Regions from separate parts of the Homo sapiens genome. Here regions 2 and 3 are each linked to region 1. Evidence: fine-mapped expression QTL. A gene starts in region 1. Each other region holds a variant in brackets. All regions are shown on one strand. Distances are between the middles of the regions. Region 1 holds the start of IL18RAP (interleukin 18 receptor accessory protein). Region 2 has its middle 13 kb from the start of SLC9A4. Region 3 overlaps IL18R1 (interleukin 18 receptor 1).

What was found.
Region 2: its variant is fine-mapped to the expression of IL18RAP in whole blood (INTERVAL, PIP 0.98).
Region 3: its variant is fine-mapped to the expression of IL18RAP in whole blood (INTERVAL, PIP above 0.99).

Annotation. Positions count from the first base shown.
Region 1 is chr2:102,419,127-102,427,126 of GRCh38, forward strand. IL18RAP (interleukin 18 receptor accessory protein) reads left to right here and starts at 4,034. Exons shown (of 10, transcript NM_001393487.1): 1 at 4,034-4,221; 2 at 4,685-5,009; 3 at 5,105-5,288. The coding sequence starts at 4,152.
Region 2 is chr2:102,455,978-102,464,314 of GRCh38, forward strand. No RefSeq gene overlaps it. Among named protein-coding and RNA genes, the nearest start is that of SLC9A4, 13 kb to the right of the region's middle. The variant AAGAG/A (reference allele first, on the strand shown) is at 3,666.
Region 3 is chr2:102,370,547-102,378,546 of GRCh38, forward strand. IL18R1 (interleukin 18 receptor 1) reads left to right here. Exons shown (of 11, transcript NM_003855.5): 4 at 1,407-1,572; 5 at 5,361-5,517. Among named protein-coding and RNA genes, the nearest start is that of IL18R1, 19 kb to the left of the region's middle. The variant G/A (reference allele first, on the strand shown) is at 4,363.

The DNA.
Region 1 (8,000 bases):
AAAAAAACTGATGGTTATAAAATAAACCCGTTTAAAGTGCTTTGAGCATTTTACAGGAAGGGCTAAGAGCAGAGAGATTCAAGATATTTGCCAAATTTGAATGCCCATTTAAACTTAACTGTAACATCTTTGATGGCAGGTACTACAGCTTCATTTTCTGTTATCCCTAGACAATGGGGTCTAAAGCCACCATGGAGCATCTGAGAATCATAATGATATTAGTTAAATTAAATACTGTCACTATTACACGAGACCAAATCTCTGTCTGCAGGTGTTCTCTGTGTAAAGTAGTTTAAGTCTGCCTTTGATGGTGACATTTCTCTCCCTGGGTCTCAGATCCCTGTTGACACTGCTTTCTCCAGCACTTTCCTCTCTCTCCCCCGTTTCTCACCAAAAAGTTTTGTGGGTAAAGTTTAGTTCATTATTTCTGCCAGAGACAGCTGAAGGTGTAGCCTTGACCAACTGAAAGGGAAATCTTCATCCTCTGAAAAAACATATGTGATTCTCAAAAAACGCATCTGGAAAATTGATAAAGAAGCGATTCTGTAGATTCTCCCAGCGCTGTTGGGCTCTCAATTCCTTCTGTGAAGGACAACATATGGTGATGGGGAAATCAGAAGCTTTGAGACCCTCTACACCTGGATATGAATCCCCCTTCTAATACTTACCAGGTATGTGATTATCATTGAGAATGGGCACTGCCATTCCAAGCAATGTGAGCCTTGGTTGTCCATCTGTAATATGAGAAAGACAGCACCCCGCTTCACTTTACAGAAAGTAAATGAGTGCCACATTATTTTATTCCCATAAGCAGAGTCTGAAGCTTGCTTTGGCTTAAGTTGCCCAGTGCTCAATAAATGATGTACTCTGCATTTTGGTGGCTCCTTCCGATTCGGTGAAGCATTTTAGTGACGGCAGCATGGAAGACATCACTTAGACATTAGATGGCCTTCAAAAGGTAGATATTAACAAGCAAGCCACACAGTGTGGGTGTGTTGTCCCACATAAATGAGACTTCCAGAATGGTCTTGGGCTCATGTTGGTCAGTTGCCTACAATGCTGGCAACAGCTACTGTAACTCAGCACTAACCCACCTCCCCAAGCTCTATGCTTATCCCTGAGCAGGGTTTCCCAAAAGTGTCTCCCAGATGAGCGTGGTGGCTCTGACACTTGTTTATAATGTAGGTTCCATTGTTCTTCTCCTTGAGAATCTGATTTAATAAGTCCTCAGGAAGCCCAAAAATCTGCATTTGTAATAAGGGTTTCGGGTGATTCTTATAATCAAGATGATTTGAGAAACACTGTCCCAGAGTGATAGCTGCAGCCTGCAATCAGCCCCAGGCAGCTGGAGGTCTGAGGCCAGTTGGTGGGTGGGTGCATCAGTAGGCAGTATCTGTCATCTCAAGGTTGGCGGACATTCCTGAGTGCTGGAGACTGCTGGGCATCGTGGTAACTAATTTGCTATAGGCTTGGACATTTAGACATAAATTGCGGGATGGTAGAGCTGGGAGGATCTTAGCAACCATCTGATCTTATGATTTACAAGTCAGGGAGCTTTTTTAAAAATTACAAATATCCCGACTTAAACATCAGAAATTCTGATTCCCTCATTCTAAGGTGGAGGAACTACTGATACAGTCCAGACATTTTATTTTGCAGGTAAGAAAGCTGAGGTCCAAAAAGAGCCTAAGTGACTTAATTGGAGCCACACAGTATGTGAATCACCATAATAGATTGCTATGTGTTTGTTCTGATGGCTCTGGAAGTGTTTATCATTTTTTCAGAACACAGAATTTATTACTAATTGTTCATTTGGCACTCTCCTAGGATCAGGATATATGATTTCTGAAATGGGATATCTGCTCTTCAGGAGCTCCCAATCTAGTGGGAGGACAAGGTGTAAGGAACAACTGATCTACTGCAGCATGGTTAAATCCTGAACAAGTCATTACTGAGCTCCTGTTATCAGCTAGGCACTATTCCTGCAGAGAGGCTGCAGGACTCAGAAAGACAAACTCAGTTCCTGCTGGGATGGAACTTATATTCTAGTTGGGGAGAAGTTTTAGGAGTAAGATATTTTCAGACAATAATATGTGCTAAGACAAAAGTCATTTAAAATGAGTAGCAAGAGAGATGGTTGATGGCAAGAAGGGAGAGGGCGCTTCTTTATCCAGGTGGTCAGGGAACGACTCTCTGAGGAAGAAATCAGGGAAGACATGAGAGAGCCAAACGCTACAGCATTTTGTCCATGGTGCTCTGGAATCTGTGCTTCATCACATGGGTGGTGGGAGCCGGTGACGTTTTGGGCATGGAAATGAAATGCCCAGGCTTGCTGCTTAGGAAGATGTGTCTGGTGGTGGAGTTGGAGGACTGTTCTTTCGGAGACTTTGTGGACAAGGGAAAGGCAAGTGGGGAGACCACATCTTTAAAGGCCATTGCTGATCCTGCCTTGTTCCTTGGTTGCAGTCCTTGTAAGAAGAGCTGTCAGTTGTCAGCAATGGGGATAATGCAGTGACCTTAACACCTATCCGTGGCATTCTGCAAGGCGCATTGCACAGAACCCCCTTTCTTTCTTCCATGAACACGCCTTGCTCTCAGCAGACAGCCAGGTCAGCATCAGCAGCCAGGTGGTAGCATCCTGTACTTTCCTGTACTTTCTGGCTCCACCTGGACAAAGTGGTCTGGGCAGACTTTCCTTTTCACCTGCATGGTTCTACCTGCCTCTTGTCCAAGATTAATCTCCCCATGGTATCAGGGACCCCACTTCTTCTGGCTTCCTGGGAGAAAGCAGTCCATGCACCCTCTCCTCACTCTCACTTGTATTTGTCCTCACTGACCTGCTGACGCATTCCCCTCGCAGTGGAATCCTACCCAAGGCCCTCTCATCTCCAGAAATGAGCAAACACTTCCTCCTGTCTTCCTGCATCATGCAGACTCTAGCAGGCGTGGTTCTTCCCCGCTTCCCACATTCCCTCTACTCCTCTCTCTCCACCCTGAAGCTCTCCGTTATCTCACCCCAGCTGCACATGCTGAGCTTTTGGTGGCCAAACCAAGACTCTTTGGTGGACACTTTTCAGTCCTTCTCATGCCCAACTCCTCTGCAGCTTCTGAAACTGATGTCTAGTCTCTCCTCCAAGCTTTCTCTGTCTGGATTGCCAAGGTGGTCTCTCTGCTCTGCTCCTTGCATTCCTTTTAGGTTTGTCATTCTTTATTTTCCATTAGCCCTGGCCTACTTTTAAAGGTTGAGGTTCCTCAGGGAAGTTCATCTGCCCTCCCTTATGGGGCAACAGAAACAATCCAGGCTTGTTACAGATGCCCCAGGCTCCCTCCAGCTGCTGAAACTGAGACCCTGCTCTGAGCCATATGCCTCCCCACCCCTCTGCCCTGGGAATGCTCCAGCTGGATCCCCAAGATATTTCAAGTAAGTGGTTTGAAAGGTCCCATGACTGCCTTATCAAGAGAGGGGACTCAAGTCCTTTGGACACAGCCCAGATCTGATTCTCTGGAGGGGACCTGCTCCCCCTTTCATATTTGAGAGTTGATAGTGGTGCCATCCAGTGACAATTTTCCCTCTTGCATGTGGGGCAGGGAGAGGTAGGTGGCCTCTATTCTCTAATAGAATAGACTAGTATATGCAAACATTCTCAAATTTTATAAATAGGAGCTATATCTCTAGCTTTCCTAACCGTGAAAAATCTGACAGTTTTATTCAACTTGGGTCATTTTTTCAGGAAAAGTTAAACATAACTCTTTTCAAATTACTCATGGAAATACACATGCTAGGTGAGCACATCAAAGAAAAAAGATTAATGAGGGGAAAAATGGCATTAAAAGAACACACTGCATAGAGCCTAGGGATATTGGGAGCTTGAGATGATTTGTAAGAAATGACACAAGTGAAAAGGTTGCTACACACCATTGGAAATACTCACGTAAGTTATAGGCAAGTGAAGGCCGGTTTGGGTAGGACCTGCCCTTTCAAAGCTTCCTGTGTGAGATGCACTTTGTTCACTGGTTCTGACTTCTTCATTTCCCATTTCTTGATTTACAGAAATGAAGGGGATACTCAGGGCAGAGTTCTGAATCTCAAAACACTCTACTCTGGCAAAGGAATGAAGTTATTGGAGTGATGACAGGAACACGGGAGAACAATGCTCTGTTTGGGCTGGATATTTCTTTGGCTTGTTGCAGGAGAGCGAATTAAAGGATTTAATATTTCAGGTAGGGGTTTTCACTTTTCATGTTAGCACTGTGAGTCTGTGGTCAAGTGTAAAGTGATGGATAACCTGATATATCAGCAGTGTGATATATTAATACAAACCTTTCCATCCTACTATTAAAAGGGGACTGAGAGGAGAATTATTAGGGTGAACAGCTTTCAGCTGATACCAAGCATTGTCGAGGTACCCTGTTACTGTAGTTGAGTGTTCAGTGAGATCAGCTGACGAGGGATGAGCCAGAGTTCTACCATCTTTTCCAGGAAACCAGGGCTGCTGCTGGTATGCTGGAGTCCACTGGGAGGGAATTAGAACAGGCACTTCCTTTCCCCTACAAAATAGACAGTGAAGAAGAAAGACACACAAGGAAGCTAGATCTCTTGTTAAATCAAGTACTAGATGTAAATATAAGCTAGAATTCCATTTTCTAATGTGTTTCCATGTGCTTTGTTTATTATGATTTTCAGGTTGTTCCACAAAAAAACTCCTTTGGACATATTCTACAAGGAGTGAAGAGGAATTTGTCTTATTTTGTGATTTACCAGAGCCACAGAAATCACATTTCTGCCACAGAAATCGACTCTCACCAAAACAAGTCCCTGAGCACCTGCCCTTCATGGGTAGTAACGACCTATCTGATGTCCAATGGTACCAACAACCTTCGAATGGAGATCCATTAGAGGACATTAGGAAAAGCTATCCTCACATCATTCAGGACAAATGTACCCTTCACTTTTTGACCCCAGGGGTGAATAATTCTGGGTCATATATTTGTAGACCCAAGATGATTAAGTATGATCCAAATACATTTCTATCTGAAAACATTTCCAAATCCTCTATTATCTAGACAAAATATCTATGTTCACAGGATCTTGTTAATTTCCTAGGAGCCCCTATGATGTAGCCTGTTGTGTCAAGATGATTTTAGAAGTTAAGCCCCAGACAAATGCATCCTGTGAGTATTCCGCATCACATAAGCAAGACCTACTTCTTGGGAGCACTGGCTCTATTTCTTGCCCCAGTCTCAGCTGCCAAAGTGATGCACAAAGTCCAGCGGTAACCTGGTACAAGGTAAGAGTGAATTCTCTAAAATTAATATAAGAGCATTGTTTTTATGGTATCTTCTTCATGGGCTTTTCATGGAAAAGCGTGTTTGAGAATCTGAGGTATACAGCTTCTCAAAAACTGGCCCTGTGCCTCTGCAGGAGATCTGACTTTCTAAAATAATCATGTTCCCTGGGAAGCCACAGAGCTTGATATTCTAATTATTAGAGGCATCCTTTTGATCAACACCAGAGAAACTTCTAAAATTCAAGTATATTACACATGAGGTTAGACATAAACCTACTAACATCTGCTAATGTAGGAAGATAGGTTCACTCATTTTCACTGTCTTAGGAAAGCAACAGGCATTGCAAAGGGGAAGGGAGGACTCAACACATAAGTCTTGAAGGGTTTGTGAAAGTTACAGGAGCCTGAAATACATTCCCAAAAGACAGCTCTTGGAGGACAGTTAGGACGAATCCAAGGTGGGCCTGAGTGACAGATGTCTTGCACAGGTGAGATGGTGGAAAGGAGTACAGTGCAAATAGAAAAAGGGAACAAGAGCAAGTTTCACAATGACTTTTAGCTATGAACCACATGTACGTGAACTCCCATAACAAAAGCACTTCATGTTTCCATCGTGTTTGATAGTGTTTCCAAGTGCTAGCAGATGATGAAATGCTGCCTAACCATCTCCTCCAAAAGAGCCCCCTGTCAGTTGATTCTTGGGTGGTGGAATCCAGGAATAGAATCTAAATCACTTCCTACAATTGCAATAACTATTTGAAGTTCAATACTTTGTCTTCAAAGTTATGCAGAATTTTGTATTCAACCTCATAATATATGTGTTTGTTAATATAAAAATATCATTCTAAATTGCTACTGATTAAAATCAGAAAGATGAGTTATCTAATGGTTTAATGCACCCCAAATTTTAAGAATGAGAGTCTCCTGGGGATACAGTTACCATGGTAAGAGGAAACATTTCCCTACTTGATTCCTGAGACTCCAGGCTAATAGGAAGACAGATGTTATCACATCCTTTACAGAAATAAATATACAGGGTGGACGAACGGCATGGGGTATGGTCTCAAATTTGTGTTTTTATATGACACTGAAAGAATGCTGGTCTCAATAAAACCCTAATTTCAGAAACATTCATTTCATAACCTTTAAAATGAGGTTAGTAAGAAGAGCCAATAGTTTTGTTCATTATTTTCAGTTCTCTCTCAAGAACAAAACTTCCTTTGGTTCAAAGTATCCGTCATCCAGGATGGCAGCTGTCTTGTTGTCTTGGTGGGCTGTTCTCAGGCCTGTAAAGCAGTCTTGTCCCCGTTATTTCAGATGAAAATGTGTTTGGCTTTTCAATGATCATACACCTGAAGTGAAAGCTATGAATTTTTACTTTTCAGGTGAGCACAAGTTGCATAATAGTAGCCAGCTTTCTGCAAATATTGCTTTTATAAACTAAACCCTAAAACTGTATGACATTCACAAAAGGAAGCTTTGTTTCACTTCCCTGGGGCTTTGACTGCAAACGTCAACATGTGTTTAATGGTGAACAGGCAGCCACCTTAAGAATAGGTGAACAATGGCTGTTATGAAAATTGTACCTCTGATACAGATTTGGACAGGTCCTGGTTTTGTGAATTACACATATGTGTGTGTGCACTCACACATACACATGCATATAAAGGCACATAGTAACCTGGAAATCACAGACCTTATGGCAGTAGTACATCACTAAAAGTGATGGCATTAGGCAGGAAAAAACACCTAATGCCTTTTTCCTTCATGCTAACCCCCAGGTTCTCAGGTGGTGGGTAAGTCATACCTACGACCCATCTCTGAATAGGTGAAGCTGGCACTGGCTGAGAGAATGAAAACATGGCTTTACTGAATTCAAATAAAACTGCTGACCAGGGATACACCCACCAGATATACAGAGTATACAACTGAAATAAATCCCTGGGCTTGGAGTCTCTGGAGCATTCCACAATATTTTTAATTGGCGAATTAAGAACAGGCTTGCAGATTGTTTAAATTTTTTTCAACTTCTTTATTTTAAAATTATTTTTAATTAACAAATCATAATTGTATACATTTACAATAGATTAAATATATACAATACATTTAATGGTCAATAGATTTTAAAAAAAGATGCCAAGAACTCACAATGGGGAAAGGATTACCTCTCCAATAAGTGGTGTTAGGAAAACTGGTTATCTACAGGGAGAAGAATGAAATTGTATCTCATACCACATGCAAAAAAAAGTATTGATGTGATGTTTTGATATATGTATACAATGTGGAGTGATTAACTCAAGCTAATTAACACATCCATCACCTTGCTTACTTTTTTTGTGGACAGACATTTGAAACTTACTCTCTTAGTTATTTTGAAATGTGCAATACAATATTATTGGCTATAGTTATCTTGCTGTGAAATATGCCTGAAAACTTAACTCCTCCCATCTATCTGAAACTTTGTACTCTTTGACCAGTATCTCCCCATTCACCCTCTTCTCCCCACCAATCAAGCCTCCATAATCATCATTCTATTCTCTACTTCTATGAGTTCAACTTTTTAAGGTTCTATATATGAGTGAGCTCTTGCAGCATTTGTCTTTCTGTGCCCGGCTTATTTCACTTAGCATAGCTTCCAAGTTTATTCGTGTTCTCCCACATGATTGAATTTCCTTTTGTAAAGGCTGAATAGTATTTCGTTGCATACATGTA
Region 2 (8,337 bases), 37 kb after region 1:
AATTTCATTTATGTGAGGTATCTAAAATAGTCAAATGCATAAAATCAAAGACTAAAATGGTGGCTGGAGGCTGGGGAAAATAGGAAGTGATTGATAAATAGGCATAAAATATCAGATACGTGAAATGGAAAAGCACATAATGTACAACATTATGCCTATAGTCAACAATAATGTATTGTACACATAAAATTGATTAAGAGGATAGGCCCCATGTTGAGCATTCTTTCCACAATAAAAATGTTTTGATGGAATAATCAAAATGTTTAAATAATCCAAAAGAAGGGAAGAGAAAAACAGAGGAACAAAAACTAAGATAAATAGAAATCAAATAACAAAATGGTAGACATAAATCCAAACATCATAATAATTACATTAAGTGTAAAATGTCTAAACACAATAATTAAAAGACAGAGATTATTAGAATAAACTTTTATAAATTTATTTAAAACCATCTTCAGTAAGCCTTTTATCAGATTTGACTTGATCAGAACCAGATTCAGCTAATTTGCTGTCTTTAAAATTAGTGAAATCTTGATCATTGTCCTGCATTCTCAGCACATTGTCTTTTGCAAGCTTATCTGAACAAGAAATTTAACCCCCTTACAATAAAAATGCTTTGAGTATAATGGTGTAGGTAGGTTAATAAGATATAATTACATGAACATTAATTAAAAGAAAGCTAGAGTGCCTATATATATATTATTTATTTATATATTCTTTAGAAATGAATAATATATTAATAAATATATTATATATTTTATATGATGAACATGTTAATGTAAATTACTATTTATTATATATTATACATAGTATATGAAAAATATATTTATATATTACTTGTTTCTAAATAAATAAATATATATTTATGCACATTTTTTGGGGACAGGGTCTCCCTCCGTCACCCAGGCTGGAGCACAGTGGTGTATCATGGCTCACTGCAGCCTCGACCTCACAGGCTCAAGCAATCTTTTCATCTCAGCCCCCCAAGTAACTGGGACCACAGATGTGTGCCACCACATCCGGCTAATTTTTTTCACATTTTTTTTGTAGAGATGGAGTTTCACCATCTTGCCCAGGCTGGTCTTGAACTCCTGAGCTCAAGTGATCTGCCTGCCTTTGCCTCCCTAAGTGCTGGGATTGTAGGTATGAGCCACCATGTCAGGCCCTGGAGTACCTATAATACATCAGCTAAAGGAGACTTTGGAGCAAAGAAAATTACCAGAGAGAAAAACAGATATTACATTATGATAAAAGGACAAATTTACCAACAGGACATAACAGTCTTAATTAAATGTGTATGCACCTAACAGCAGTGCTTCAAAATACATGAAGCAAAACTGACAGAACTAAAAGAAGAAATAGACAAATCCACGACTGTAGTTGGAGACTTGAATATTATTCTCAAGTATTGATAAAATGGTAAACAGAAATTTATCAAGAATATAGGCTGCGCGTGGTGGCTCATGCCTGTAATCCCAGCACTTTGGGAGGCCGAGTTGGGCGGATCACGAGGTCAGGAGCTTGAGATCAGCCTGCCCAGCACGGTGAAACCCCGTCTCTACTAAAAATACAAAAAATTAGCCAGGCATGGTGGCGCGTGCTTGTAATCCCAGCTACTCAGGAGGCTGAGGCAGGAGAATCTCCTGAACCCAGGAAGCAGAGGTTGCAGTGAGCCGGATCGTGCCATTGCACTCCAGCCTGGGTGACAGAGTGAGACTCCGTCTCAGAAAAAAAAAGAAGAAGAATATAGAACAACACTACTTAATTGTTGTTTTCTAGATCTACTTGACATTTATAGAATGTTCCACCCAATGATTGCAGAATACACAATCTTTTGATGTACACACCGACCATGTGCTAAGATATACCGTATCCTAGATTGTAAAACAAACAATAACAAGAATTTAGAAATTGAAATTGTACAAAGTTATATTCTGTATTTATAATGGATTTATAATGAATTCAGACTAGAGATTATTAAGAGAAAGATGGTGGGAAAAATCTCAAAACATTTGGAAATTAAGTGACACATTTCTCAATAATCTATGGATAAAAATGGAAGTCTCAAAGCAAATGAAATGATATTTTCAAATGAATGGAAATGAAAATGCAACATATCAAAATTTGCAAGATGAGACTAAAGCCATGCTTAAGGGCAAGTATATAATATTAAATACTTATGTTAAAAGAGGAAAATATATAAATTAATAATCTAAACTTCCACCTTAGGAAGCCAAAAAAAAATAATAAATTTGAGAGCAGAAACCACTGCCATTGAATAACATAAAACAATAAAGAAAATCAATAGTACAGGAACCTGGTTCTTCGAGAGCATCAATAAAACTGAAAAACTCCTAGCAAGACTGACCAAAAAAAAAAGAAGAAGAAGGAAGACACAAATTACCAGTATTAGTAGTGAGATAAGAGATATCAATACAGATCCTGCACATCTTAAACGAATAAGGAAATGTTATGGATACTGTATAAATACATATTTGACAACCTAAATGAAATGGATAAATGCTCAAAAACCACAAGCTAAAAATACTTATCCAATATTAAATAAATAACCTAATTGGTCATAACTGTTAAAAAAATTAATTCCTATTATTAAATTTCCAAAAATAAAATCTTCAGACCCCGATGGTTTCACTGCCTAATTCTATCAAACATTTAAAGGAAAAAAAAAATGTGAATCCTACACAATTTTTTTCAGAAAACAGAAGAAGGAACATTTCCTAAGTTATGCAAATTATTATGAGTCCAGAATTTTTCTAATACCAAAACCAAACAAAAAAAATTATAAGACAACTATAGACCAACATTCTTCATGAACATTGACACAAAAATACTCAAGAAAATATTAGCAAATTGAACCTAGTAATATATAAATAGAATAATGCATCACAACCAAGTGGAGCTTATCATGGGTATTCAGGGCAGGCTTCATATTTTAAAATATTTCAGTGTAATTCTTTATATTAACAGTGTAAGGAAGAACAAAGACATGATCATATGAACCAATTCCAAAAATATATTTGACAAAATTCACCATCGTCTCGTCATAAAACCTCTCAGCAAACTAGGCATAGAAGGGAATTTTCTCATCATGATAAGGGGCTCTAAAAACAACAACAAACAAACTATAGATGAAAAAATCATACTAAATGGTGAAAGACTGTATGTATGTTTTCTCTATAAGATGGGAAGCAAGGCAAGGATACTTACTCGCAGAATACTATACAACCTTGTATGAAAGTTTTCACCAGTGCAATAAGACGAGGAAAAGAAATAACATGCATGCAGTTTGGAAAGAAAGAAACAATCTCTCCTTTTTTTCTAAAAAGTAATTTTCTATGTAGAATATCCAAGAAAGCTATAAAAATATTCCTAGAACTGATAAGTGAGTTTAGCAAGTTCTTAGGATACATGATTAACAACGTAAAAATCAAATGTATTTCTATCTCTATTAAGAAACAATTGAAAACCAGATGTTACAGACATTACCATTTATAATAGGTCAAAAAAGAAAGAGGAAAGGAAGGAAAGAAGGAAGGATAGGGAAGGAAAGGAAGAAAGAGAAAGAAATAAGAGAGAAAGAAAGAGAGAAAAAAGAAAGAAAGGAAGGAAAGAGAAAGGAAGAAAGAGAAAGAAAGAAAGAAAGA[AAGAG/A]AGAAAGAAAGAAAGAAAGAAAGAAAGAAAGAAAGAAAGAAAGAGAGGGAGGGAGGGAGGGAGGGAGATTCATGTATAAATGAACAGAATGTGTGGATGTTCCATAAGCTAAAAACTATGAAATACTTATGAGCAAAATTAAAGAACAATTAAATAAAGAGAGAAGCATAGCATGTTTGGTGATACAAAGATTCAACATATTGTCAAATCAACAATCCCCTTTACATTGATTAAGAGGTTTAACGCAATTCCAACTGATATTCCAGCAGAATTTTTTGTAGATTATAGGCAAACTAATTCTAAAATATATGTGGGAAAGCGAATAAACTAGAAAAACCAAAGCTATTTGGAAAAGAAAATAAAGTTGGAGGAGTCATGCTAGACGATTTTATGAATCAATAAAAAGTTACAGCAACCAAAATGGTGTGATATTAACAAAGCAATAGATCAATGGAACTGAGTAGAAAGTCTAGAAATACATCCACACAAATATGGCCTATTGATTTTGACAAATTTTCAAAGGCAATTCAATAAAGAATAGAGTTTTAAACAAATGGTTTTGCATCAATTGGACATACATATGCAATAAGATGAAGCTCACAGCTTATACAAAATTAACTTGTAATAGGCCATAGATCTCAATGTAAAGCCTAAATCTATAAAACTGTTAGAAGAAAACATGACCTAGGATTAGAAAAAGAGTTCTTAGATGTAACACCAAAAGCATGATCCGTAGAGAAAAAAAAAGTTGGAGTTTAACAAAGTTAAAACCACTTTTTCCGAGAAAACCACTGCTAAAAGGATGAAAAAAAAAAACAAGCTTTAAATTGACAAAAATTATTTCAAAATCACAAGTCCAATAAAGGACTTGTGCTGAGAGTTTATAAAGATTTCTCTAAACTCAATAATAACAAGTAGCTACCAATTAAAAAAGGAGCAAAAACTTGAATAGACATTTTGCTAAAGAGGACAGACAGATGGCAAACAGGCACATAAAAAGATGTGCAACAGCACCATCCACTGGGAAAATGGAAATTAAAGCCACAAGGAGAAAACACACACACACACACACCATGGGGCACATAGAGAAAAAGAAAAGAAACCTAACAACACGAAATGGTGATGATGTAGAGAAACTAGAACTCTCATATACTACTGGTGAGAGTGCAAAATAGTGCAGCCACCCTACAAAACAATTTAACAAGTCCTTATAATGTGACTTCCTTACTAGATGCCCAAAACATCCTACTTGTAGATATTTACCCCAGAGAAATAAAAACTTACGTTCACACAAAATCCAATACACAAATGTTTATTGTGGCTCTACTCATAATAACTAATACCTAGAAAAACTCAAGGACTTTCAACCAGTATGTGTCAGCTAAAGTCCAATCAAAAGACAGAAATCATGTAGTAATTTAAAAAGGGATATTATGATATAAATGATTATTTGGCTGTGATGAGAGACTGATTATAAGGACATGAATAGAACTCCAAAGAGTATCTCAGGGCTGAGAGATAGTAGAAAGACAAAGTTGCAAGTGGTCCCCTCCCCAAGACTGGGGTTCAGACATCACTAGAAGCAGTGTGGTGTAGCCCACTGAATGGCAAGGAAGGTCTCTTACGTGCCTGGGTCAGAGCTAGTTCACAGTTGCTGGGAAAGCTGGAAGCAAACCTGTCAGGTGCAGTCAAGCCATGGCTGGTGGGCAGACATGCAGCATGGCCAGGCCATGACTGCTTTAGGATGCAGGCGAGCTGTAGTTGATATGCGGGTACACAGGGCATTCAGAATGCCACTGTGGGCATGCGGCCTGGAGTGCACAGTGTCCACATCAGGAAGATATTGGGAGGTGGTCACCTGGCCTAAGCTAGTACTGCGAGGTCACTGAGCAACGGCTTCCTCTGGATATAGCTAGTGCAGAGCACCAACAGATGTCTACACACACACACTGCTGCCTGATGGTGCAGCACAAGTGAGAAAAAAAAACAGAACACAGCAGCTGGAACCAGACGGACCCTCCTGTAATGCTTGTCCAACTCCCTGTACCAAAGAGGTGAATACTATGCTCACTGTATAGGATGAATGCTTCAAAAATTCAATCCATTACACACAGCAGGTACTGAATGGTGAATTCAGAGCTGTGAGGTAATACATTGATAACTGGTGATAAATTGATAACTGGTATAGGGTGAATTAATTAACAAATAGTTGTACAAGCAAACCATGAAATACTTCTCAGCAATACAAAGGAATTCACCACTGAGACATGCACCAGCTTGGATAAATCTCAATGCAGTATGCTGGGTAGAAAAAGCTTATCTCTAAAGGTTACATGATTCCATTTCTATGACATTTTCAAAAAGTCAAAACAGTGACAGAACAGATTATTGGTTTCCAGGAGTTAGGGATGGAGGAGGGCGGGTCTCAAAGAAAGAGCATGTAACCTGATTGTCTTGGTGATTATGTGAATTTACATCCGTATTTAAATGCACACAACTGTAAATCAAACAAGCTAATTTTATTGTATGTTAATTTAAAAATAAAAATGTAAACCCATTCTCCCTAACCCTACCAAGATGTCCACTGCTCCTGGTGCACCTGATGAAGGTGATACCTTCTCTGTCTCCACCTCGTCTTCTGCCCCATGCAGTAAAGCCCCTAATGGTCCATTCTTCCAATGTGACTCTAACCTGGTTATTCTGCACAGCATTCACCTGGTTCATGGGGAATTGGATGCCCACTTTCCCCACCATTGCTCCCAGGCTTCCCTCTCTTTCCTTGCTCTCCAACTGCATTTGTTCCAGCTGATCTGCCATTGTCAATGATATCCTGCCGAGGATCAGGCACCAGTCTGATTTTTGAAACCCAAAGAAAAGATTATAAACTCTTTCAAGACTTTTTTTACTTGTCTACATTCCAATTACATAGATTCTGTGGGGATGAGAACTCAGCTCTGTACAGCTTTAGCAGGGGTGAAATGTCAGTCTTCCCCGCTGGCAGAAAGCCTCGCATCTATGAGTTGTGACCTTGGAGCTCTCTAATTGGGGGGCTGTAGGGTCTTTTACATAGGTCTCTGGGGATGCGAGTGCTGGACCAGTTTGGCTACCCTTAGCAAGTCCTGCAGGGGTTTTGTCTAACATCTCTGTTTGAACTGAGAGTGCACTTGCCACTCTAAGTCCTTAAATTTGTTACCTTTGCCAAAATTCAAGGTCAACTGAAAAACGCCCCATTTAACCTCTGATTGTACCACCCCCAGGTAAGTTTCTGTGCCCTTTAAAAAGCCAACTATATACAGGAAAGTCTCTGACCAGAACTTGGCACAGTTAAATATCACTTACTGGCTTTTCTTACCTTTGTATTCTGGTTCATTTCACGTCTAGGAGTTTTTCATAAGCCCCACATCTGTAACTGGATAATTGAACAGGCTGAATTTACTAAGATATCTGCAGAAAATGGCGTTGCTCTTCTCCCACCATTGCCTCACTACATTTTTTAAGGTCGCATTTGCTTCAACTGATCAGATCTCATAAGAAGCTATTTACAAATCAACCACTCAGTTACGGATGGATGATCATGTACGCAATTGTACTTTAACTAGAGCTAACTGCAGCGATGTGACAGAGAAAATGTTACGTGTTCACCAAAATCATTTTGTTTTTCTGAACACACAGCCACTTTTCCCAGCCTTCTTTGTAGTTGGTTTGGGACACGTGACTAATATTTTCTAGAAGTAGAGTGGATGTGATAGGGTGATTTCTAGACTGAGGCAATGCAGATATAACTTTTGCACACTCTGTCTTGCCCATTGTGACCTTGGAGGCTACATGCTTGAGCTGGCATGCCCACATGATAAAGGTGTTCCTTATCCACATTGAAACTATAATGTGGGTACAAAGTAAACTACCTATGTTCAGCCACTGAAGTTTCTAGATGATTTATTATTGTTGCGGAGTTTAAAGTGTCCTAACTGACAAAAAAAGTTGAGTCTTTTTTGTTCTCTTTCTTAACGTCTCAGAGTGTTCTGAGGGTTTTCTCATCTGAAACTGTCATGGTTTTCAGAGTTAAGAAATTCACACTGAAACAGTTCTCTTTTGGTGGACAGCATCCTGATTTCCCTCTATGTTGTTCTGTCTCATTTCCCCGCATAATTCCTACTTCTTGCCTTTTGATTCTGCACTATGTGCCTGTGACAAGGCAGTTCAGGCAATCATTGCTCAACTGAACTGAGCTCTTTGTGTACCACCACACAAGTGAAGATCCTAATGAAGAATCCTTCGCACCCCACTCCTAGACTTGCACAACAGGTATTGACAACTTATTCCAGTAGGCGCTCTTACCAACAGTTTTTTTTCTTTCTTTCTTTCTTTTTTTTTTTTTTGAGACAGAGTCTCACTCCGTCGCCCAGGCTGAAGTGCAGTGGTGCGATCTCGGCTCGCTGCAACCCTCTGCCTCTCGGGTTCAAGTGATTCTCCTGCCTCAGCCTCTGGAGTAGCTGGGATTACAGATGCGTACCACCATGCCCAGTTAATTTTTGTATTTTTAGTAGAGACGGCGTTTCACCATGTTGGTCAGGCTGGTCTCGAACTCCTGACCTCATGATCCACCCGCCTCAGCTCCCAAAGGGCTGGGATTACAGGTGTGAGCCACTGCGGCAGGCCACCTTCAAC
Region 3 (8,000 bases), 49 kb before region 1:
CCAGTCACGGCCAATCTTTTATAAATTCATGCCCAAGGTGAAGGGGCCAGATTCATTGGATTGTGAAAGTGTAGAATTGTGCAGAGCACTTCTGGCCTCTGGGGCCAAATAGATGTGCATTTGTATCCTGGCCCCATCTTGTAGCAAGTGTGTGGCCTGAGTGAGTTGTTTAACCTGTCTGAGATTTAGCATTCTCATCTGAGCCTAAGGAAAATAGTCATCTCCCTTGCATGTACATAGTCTAATACCTGGAACTCAGTAAGTGTTAGTCTTTTCTTCCTTCTATCCTATTGTAGACCTAAAGGGGAACTGGAAGAGCCTAAGGTGGGCACAAATGTGTCAGGCATAGAGGATAACTTAAAAACACGCATCTGCTGTATTTAGCAAATAAATCTATACATCACAGGTGCAGTGGAAGCAAACATGAAATTTGAAACATTTTCTCTTTAAAATCTTCATTTAAAAAATACTGTATTGTTTTCCAATTCCAGATCACCTTTTTTTGTTGTTGTTGTTGTTGTTTTTTTGAGATGGAATTTCGCTCTTGTTACCCAGGCTGGAGTGCAATGGCGCGATCTCCACTCACTGCAACCTCCGCCTCCTGCCTCAGCTTCCCGAGTAGCTGGGATTACCGTACCCAGCTAATTTTTGTAGTTTTAGTAGAGACGGAGTTTCACCACATTGGCCAGGCTGGTCTCAAACTCCTGACCTCAGGTGATCCACCTGCCTTGGCCTCCCAAAGTGCTGGGATTACAGGTGTGAGCCACTGCACCTGGCCTAGTGATAGTCCTGATCACTAATTTCTGATCAGGAGTAACAACAACTATAAAATCTATTCACACTCACTTTTGGTCAGTAAGGCATTTAAAGAGCTAATTCAATTACACTGAGGGCAGCAACTCCAGACTTTGGTTTATTCAACAGTAAAAGAAGGGGATTGGAAGAAGTTGCCTTGAGAAACAAAACCTAATATATATATACACACATTTAGAAAACAACATCAGGAGTTTATAGACCTTTTGAAACCAAAGCCACCCTCCCATCCTGGGCCAAGACTCTCTGAACTTATCCATCAGTGAAGATCACTGACATTGTAAAGATTTGCTTTTCTGACATCCATAATATATTGTCTGCAGTAGGATATGTGCGTGTGTGCGTGTGCATGTGTGTGTCTCTGTGTGTAGACTGCTTAGGTTTTCATTTATTACCCCCTGCTCCCATGACAGTTTTTAAAGTTCTTGCTCTTCTGAATCAAGCGGAGGCAGAGCAGGGTTTGCACATCAATGAATCAATCTCTTTAATAAAAATAAAGGAAAAATATTGTAACTGGTTACTAAAGGGAAGATGGGTGATATTTGCAAAGTTTCTGTAGCATTATAAAATACCTTTACACTTTTATTCCATAGAAATTATACTCAGAAATGGAAATTAAATGTCATCAGAAGAAATAAACACAGCTGTTTCACTGAAAGACAAGTAACTAGTAAAATTGTGGAAGTTAAAAAATTTTTTCAGATAACCTGTGAAAACAGTTACTATCAAACACTGGTCAACAGCACATCATTGTATAAGGTAATGCTTTTATAATATTTTAACTTTAAGACTTGATGGAAAAGATAAAATTCCCAAATGAGGGGCTGAGAGCTACCATTCTGGTCTCATAACAAATAAGCTGCCTGATCCCACATGGCTCACTTGCCCTGTTTGAGCCAAGTATCCTCACTGGCTTGTTGTCAAGAGCTGATACATAGTATTAAAATATGTTCCACAGTAGTTTCCCTGGATTTGGTGTTCAATAAATGATCACAGTTTCTTCTCCCACACTCTTCCTTCATTTTCCTTCTCTTTCGATAAGTTAGTTTTTAGGAATGCTAGTTTAAGGATTTCCATTTTCTCCTGTCACATGTACTTAACATGTAAAACTCAATTGTATATGTTTTTCTGAATATATTAGTTCATTTTATAAAATTGGAAATGGTAATGCTTTTATAATATTTTAACTTTAAAACTGAAAAATGAAGAAAGCAAAAATCACTCATAAATCCATCACAGACTTTTTTTTTCTGTGAAGCATCTGCTTTTTAAAAGTGGTATATTTTATTTTTTTATGTTTTTTCCTCTAAGAATTACGTTGTGACTATCCCTTCACATCTTTAAATGATCTTCTAAACATGGGCTTTCAGTTTTTATGTGCCTGGTTTCATCTAACTAACCCCCTTGTTTCGTCTAACTAATCCCATTGTTATTGGACATTTGTGAATTGCCTATTTTTCACTATTATTTAAAGGCTAAAATGAATACCATTTCCACAAATCCTTGGGTGTTTATATGATTTGTCCTTCAACCAAATCCCTAAATGTAGAATTACTGGATCAGAGGCTGTGAGCATGTTTTTATGTCTTTTTCCTCACACTATCAAACTTGTCTCCAGGGAGCTCTGCCAATTTTACCCCACACTTGAAAAAAGAATCCCAATTTTTTGTCACCTCCACAACACAGGGAAATAATGGTCCCAGAATGTTTAAAATTTGATATGAAAAATTTCTAAAACTCCTAGTGGTTTTTTCACTTTTCTTAGTAATAAATTAAACTTTTGTATATATTTATTGCATCTTACTGCAATCAGGCAATTTTGTGGGTTGCCTGTTTATTTTTTTCTGTTTTCTTCAGTTGGTATACCTTTTACCTGTTGAATTTTAAAAGCTCTTATACACCATGGAATACTATACAGCCATAAAAAAGCATGAGTTCATGTCTTTTGTAGGGACATGGATGAAGCTGGAAACCATCATTCTCAGAAAACTAACACAGGAATAGAAAACCAAACACTGCATGTTCTCACTCATAAGTGGGAGGTGAACAATGAGAACACATGGACACAGGGAGGGGAACATCACACACCGGGGCCTGTTGTGTGGGGTGGGAGGGTAGGGGATGTATAGCATTAGGAGAAATACCTAATGTAGATGACAAATTGATGGGTTCAGCAAACCACCATGGCACGTGTATACCTATGTAACAAACCTGCACATTCTCCACATATACCCCAGAACTTAAAGTATAATAAAAAAAAAAGCTCTTTTAGACCACGCTATAGGAATTATATATACACATACATAGCGTGTGTGAGTGTAGTGTGTGTATGCATAAAAAACATACGCACTCCCATCCACACACATACGCAACACAAATTGTGTAGTTCAGGGGTCCCCAATCCCCATGCCACTCCCCCTCACTAACATTACCACCTCCTGTGAGATCCGCAGCTGCATTAGACTCTCACAGGAGTAAGAACCCTATTGTGAACTGTGCATGCGAGGAATCTATGTTGCATGCTCCTTATGAGAATCTAATGCCTGATGATCTGTCACTGTCTCCCATCACCCCCAGATAGGACCACCTATTTGCAGGAAAACAAGCTCAGGGCTCCACTGATTCTACATTATGGTGAGTTGTATAATTATCTCATTATATATTACAGTGTAATAACAATAGAAATAAAGTGCACAATAAATGTAATGCGCCTGAATCATCCCCAAACCAACCATTCCCCGCTCAACCCCTGCCCACCCTGGTCCATGGAAAAGTTGTCATTCATGAAATCAGTCTCTGTGTCAAAACGGTTGGGGACAGCTGATGTAGTTTATATGGAATAACAAATCTGAATAATATGACTCTGTCGTGGAAACTTTAAAGACCTATAAGAGAGTGGTCTGAACAGAACTTGGGAAATCTGAAGCGAGTGATGATAATATCCTTGAAATTTTTGTTTGTGCCTTATGCTTGAACACTGTTTACTTGTGATTTCCAAAGACAGCTCTTATCTGAAATGTTTTCTAAACACTCGAATCAGTCCTGAGTTGACTTTATTCTATTTCCCATCAATGTACAAATGTGTTACAGTATATGTAAATTAGTGAGGCTTGGTGTGCTGAGTTTTAAGAAATTCCGTTCGGGTGCAGTGGCTCACACCTGTAATCCCAGCACTTTGTGAGGCTGAGGTGGGCGGATTATTAGGTCAGGTGATCGAGACCATGCTGGCTAATATGATGAAACCCCGTCTCTACTAAAAATACAAAAAATTAGCTGGGTGTGGTGGCACATGCCTGTAGTCCCAACTGCTCGGGAGGCTGAGGAAGGAGAATCACTTGAACCCGGGAGGCAGAGGTTGCAGCGAGCCGAGACTGGGCCACTGCACTCCAGCCTAGGGGAGAGAGCGATACTCCGTCTCAAAAAAAAAAAAATGAAATTCCAAAGTGCAGCTATTTAAATTATGAGCATTGGTGCACCAAGGATATTTAGCTAAACAATTGACCACAGGGCTAAGTATTCTAAGCCTGTTGACTGATCATGACTTCACCC[G/A]AGAGCAAGGAGGCTAATTCAGTAGATAATTGATTGGAAAGGAAAATGAAGAGTCTCTGATCTTTTCTATAGCTTGAAAAAATTAGTTTGGCTTTATAAAATTTTGACTTATACATAAATAATTTACTGACGTGAGGTACACATGTGGGTGCTTCACGGGCACATTCTATGCACAATGGGTCTAGCCCCAGTGGCTGCCAGCTCTGAGGGAGAAGTCTGTGGGCAGTAGGTTCTCCTTGCTTGGTGTTTGCAGAAACAGTGTCCAATGGTCAAGGATGGCCATTCAGCCCCCAGACATCCCATGTGGTCCCTGCATGGCTCTGGGACCTACCTCTGGGTGTCAGATGTGCTGGATTGAAGAAAGTGGCTTTATTACAATTAGTATTAATTCCTGTGACATGTATGGAAATGTGTGTGAGAGAGAGAGAGATGTTTGAGTGTACCTATGGATTTGAATATTGCTGATGCATTTCTAATCAGCTCGCTGGCTTCTGATGGAGGGTGTCAAAGGTGTGGGTGGTCTGCTAGCTACTCATTCTCTGAGTAATTCTCCACCCATCCCACTATCCACCCCTTGGATGCATAGTCCAGAATACACAAAATTGGACTGAACATGTATGAAATAGAGTTGTGACTCAAGCAAGGGTTTTTGAAGTAGTGTTCTCTCTCTCTCTCTGTCTCTCGCTGTTTCTCTCTCTCTGCATGTGTGTAAAAGAGAGAGATGAAAGAATATTGATGAAAGCAGCTACAGTGCTCATATTGCCCCATGCTCTACTTCCCAGCATATATTAATAATGATAATCATGCCAACAGCAATGGGATCGCATTTAATTGTTTCAGTAAAAGTAGTACCAAGTAACTGGGACATATGTCCAGGAATTGCTACTTTCCATTCTTTTTTCCTTTTTCTCTAAAGATCTTTAACTCAAAAATTTGGATCACTGTAATATCAATTTGGCTTTTACTTAAAGTATTTTAACTTGTTTTATTAAAAACAGAACTGTAAAAAGCTACTACTGGAGAACAATAAAAACCCAACGATAAAGAAGAACGCCGAGTTTGAAGATCAGGGGTATTACTCCTGCGTGCATTTCCTTCATCATAATGGAAAACTATTTAATATCACCAAAACCTTCAATATAACAATAGTGGAAGGTAAGGGAAATCTTAGAATTGGGAAGAAACAGACGTATTTTAGTAAAATGGAATTTTTTCATTCTTCAAAACTGTGTAGGAATTGAGAGTCCACTTAGTTGGGGTTGTGACCACACCACTAGTTCAAATATGATGGTCAAAATCTTCATTCTGGTGCTCCTCTACTTGGCTAAATAAACCTTTCTTTTTGGCAGGAAATGAAAATCTGTATGAATAAACCTCACATGAGTCAGCTCTCTCTTATATATGAAATTTGAGTAAATTGTGGAATCTTTTGTTGTTGAATTTACATTTTCACTTTACAAGTATTTAGTGAAGATATCTATACTCAATAAACTGTACTTAGCACAAGGAGGCAGGGAAGCAAGGAAGTATGAGATGAAGTGAGCACTGTACTATTCTCAAGGGATTTGATTCTAATCAGGAGAGGCAATAAGCTACATAAAGGTGTATGAAACAGCATCATCTGTGAGGCTGCAAGAGTGCAGGGGGAGGTTGGAGGAAGGACAGATGCAGGAGGCTCCATTTGACCTGGGTCTTGGAGGGGGAGCCTCATGAAACAGTGACCTGCTGGGGGAAGGGATCTCCACTGGGAGAGTGTAAGGAACACTGATGTGCTGGTGGGAGGGGAGGGATGATGGACCCAGGCTGTGTGTGATGGAGGAACAGAATCCTGGGACATTAAAGGTATTTAATTAAACCTCACCCAGTGAAGATATTCATCATAAGGCACAGCCAATGATTGATCATCCAGTCCCTTCTTGGGAACTATCAAGGAAATGACCAAATCACACAGCAGTGTAGTCCAGATTTTAATATCTGATTGTTGAAGTCTTTTTTTTCCATTGAGTCCAAATATCCCTTCTCGTAGCTTCCAACCACTGATTTTGATTTGCCTTCAAGAATTTCACAGATTAAATCTGGCTCCTTCTTAAAATGACAGCTCCTTTCGTGATTTGAAGACAGGTTGCTTATCCAGTCTGGATTTTTTTCCCCATCATCCTGAGAAACTGGAAACTGTAACACTTGTGTGGGTGGCTTGTTCAACAAAATCTGTGGGCTCACATTTGCTACAGCCTTTGCTTTAGCAACATCTTTCTTCTTCACTACAACCATATAGCTATATACACCCACATGTTGCCACAGTAACAAATTATCCCAAGTTTAGTGTCTTCGGTAAAATCAAGGTTTTGCCAGAATTGCTTTACTTCTGGAGGCTGTAGGGGAAAATGCGTTTCTTTTATTTTTTTATTTATTTTATATTTTTGAGATGGAGTCTTGCTCTGTTGCCTAGGCTGCAGTGCAGTGGCGCAGCCTTGGGGCTCACTGCAAGCTCCGCCTCCTGGGTTCACACCATTCTCCTGCCTCAGCCTCCCGAGTAGCTGGGACTACAGGCACCCGCCACCACTCCCGGCTAATTTTTATATTTTTTTTAGTAGAGACGGGGTTTCACCGTGTTAGCCAGGATGGTCTCGATCTCCTGACCTCGTGATCCCCCTGCCTTGGTCTCCCAAAGTACTGGGATTACAGGCATAAGCCACTGCACCAGGCTGGAAAATGTGTTTCTTTGCCTTTGCTTTCTCCAGCTTCTAGAGACCACTTGCATTTCTTGGCTTGTGCCACTTCATTTCAGAGCCAAACACATTTGCTTCCCTCACCTCATCTCCTTTTTGACTCTGACCTTTCTGTCTCCCTCTGATGAGGACCTTGAGACAGCATTGTGCCCACCTAGATAATCCAGGGTGATCCCCCTATCTCAAGATCCTTAATTTAATCACACCTAGAGGTTCCTTTTGCCATGTAACATATCGTATTCACAGGAACTCAGGAGTAGGATGTGGGAAACTTCAGGGTCTATTATTCTGCCTGCCACAGCCCAGAACCTGGGAAACCCATAACTGAATTTTAAACTCAAAAACTTAAATTCTGTGTATAATCATCTACCCTAAACTCTCCAACTTTACTTTCCTACATCTATTTTTAATCTCATATAAATCTCTGTTACTTTGATACTTTCAGAACCTACACCCTCTTTCCCACCATCTTTGCTTTCTGCCCATCAGCAGCTCTTTCCTTCCTTCTTTGATGAAGCTGTAGGAATATCCATTATTAAAAGGGTGCTTGTTATGGGCCAGGGATAGTGCCAAGTACTGGAGTTGAATCATGTCATATAATCCTCACAACAGCTCTGTGAGACTGTGGCCTTGGGTGAGTTAATTTCCTTAGTTCCTCTCTGCCTCAGATTCCTCATCATGAAATGGGACAGTAATGGTTCATCCCTCGTAGGGTTGGCTGACAATGACTGAGTGAGTGTGTGTACAGCTCTAGGATGGCTCTAGGGACAGTAAGAGTTCTGCTGTAATGACCATCTCCCACTGCTAGGTTCCCAAACCTCACCTGCAGCACAAGCTATTCTTCTCCCATAATTGTCCATCTTATTTTTCTTGTCTTCTTGGAGAATGTCAACTGAGTCTCTCAGGACT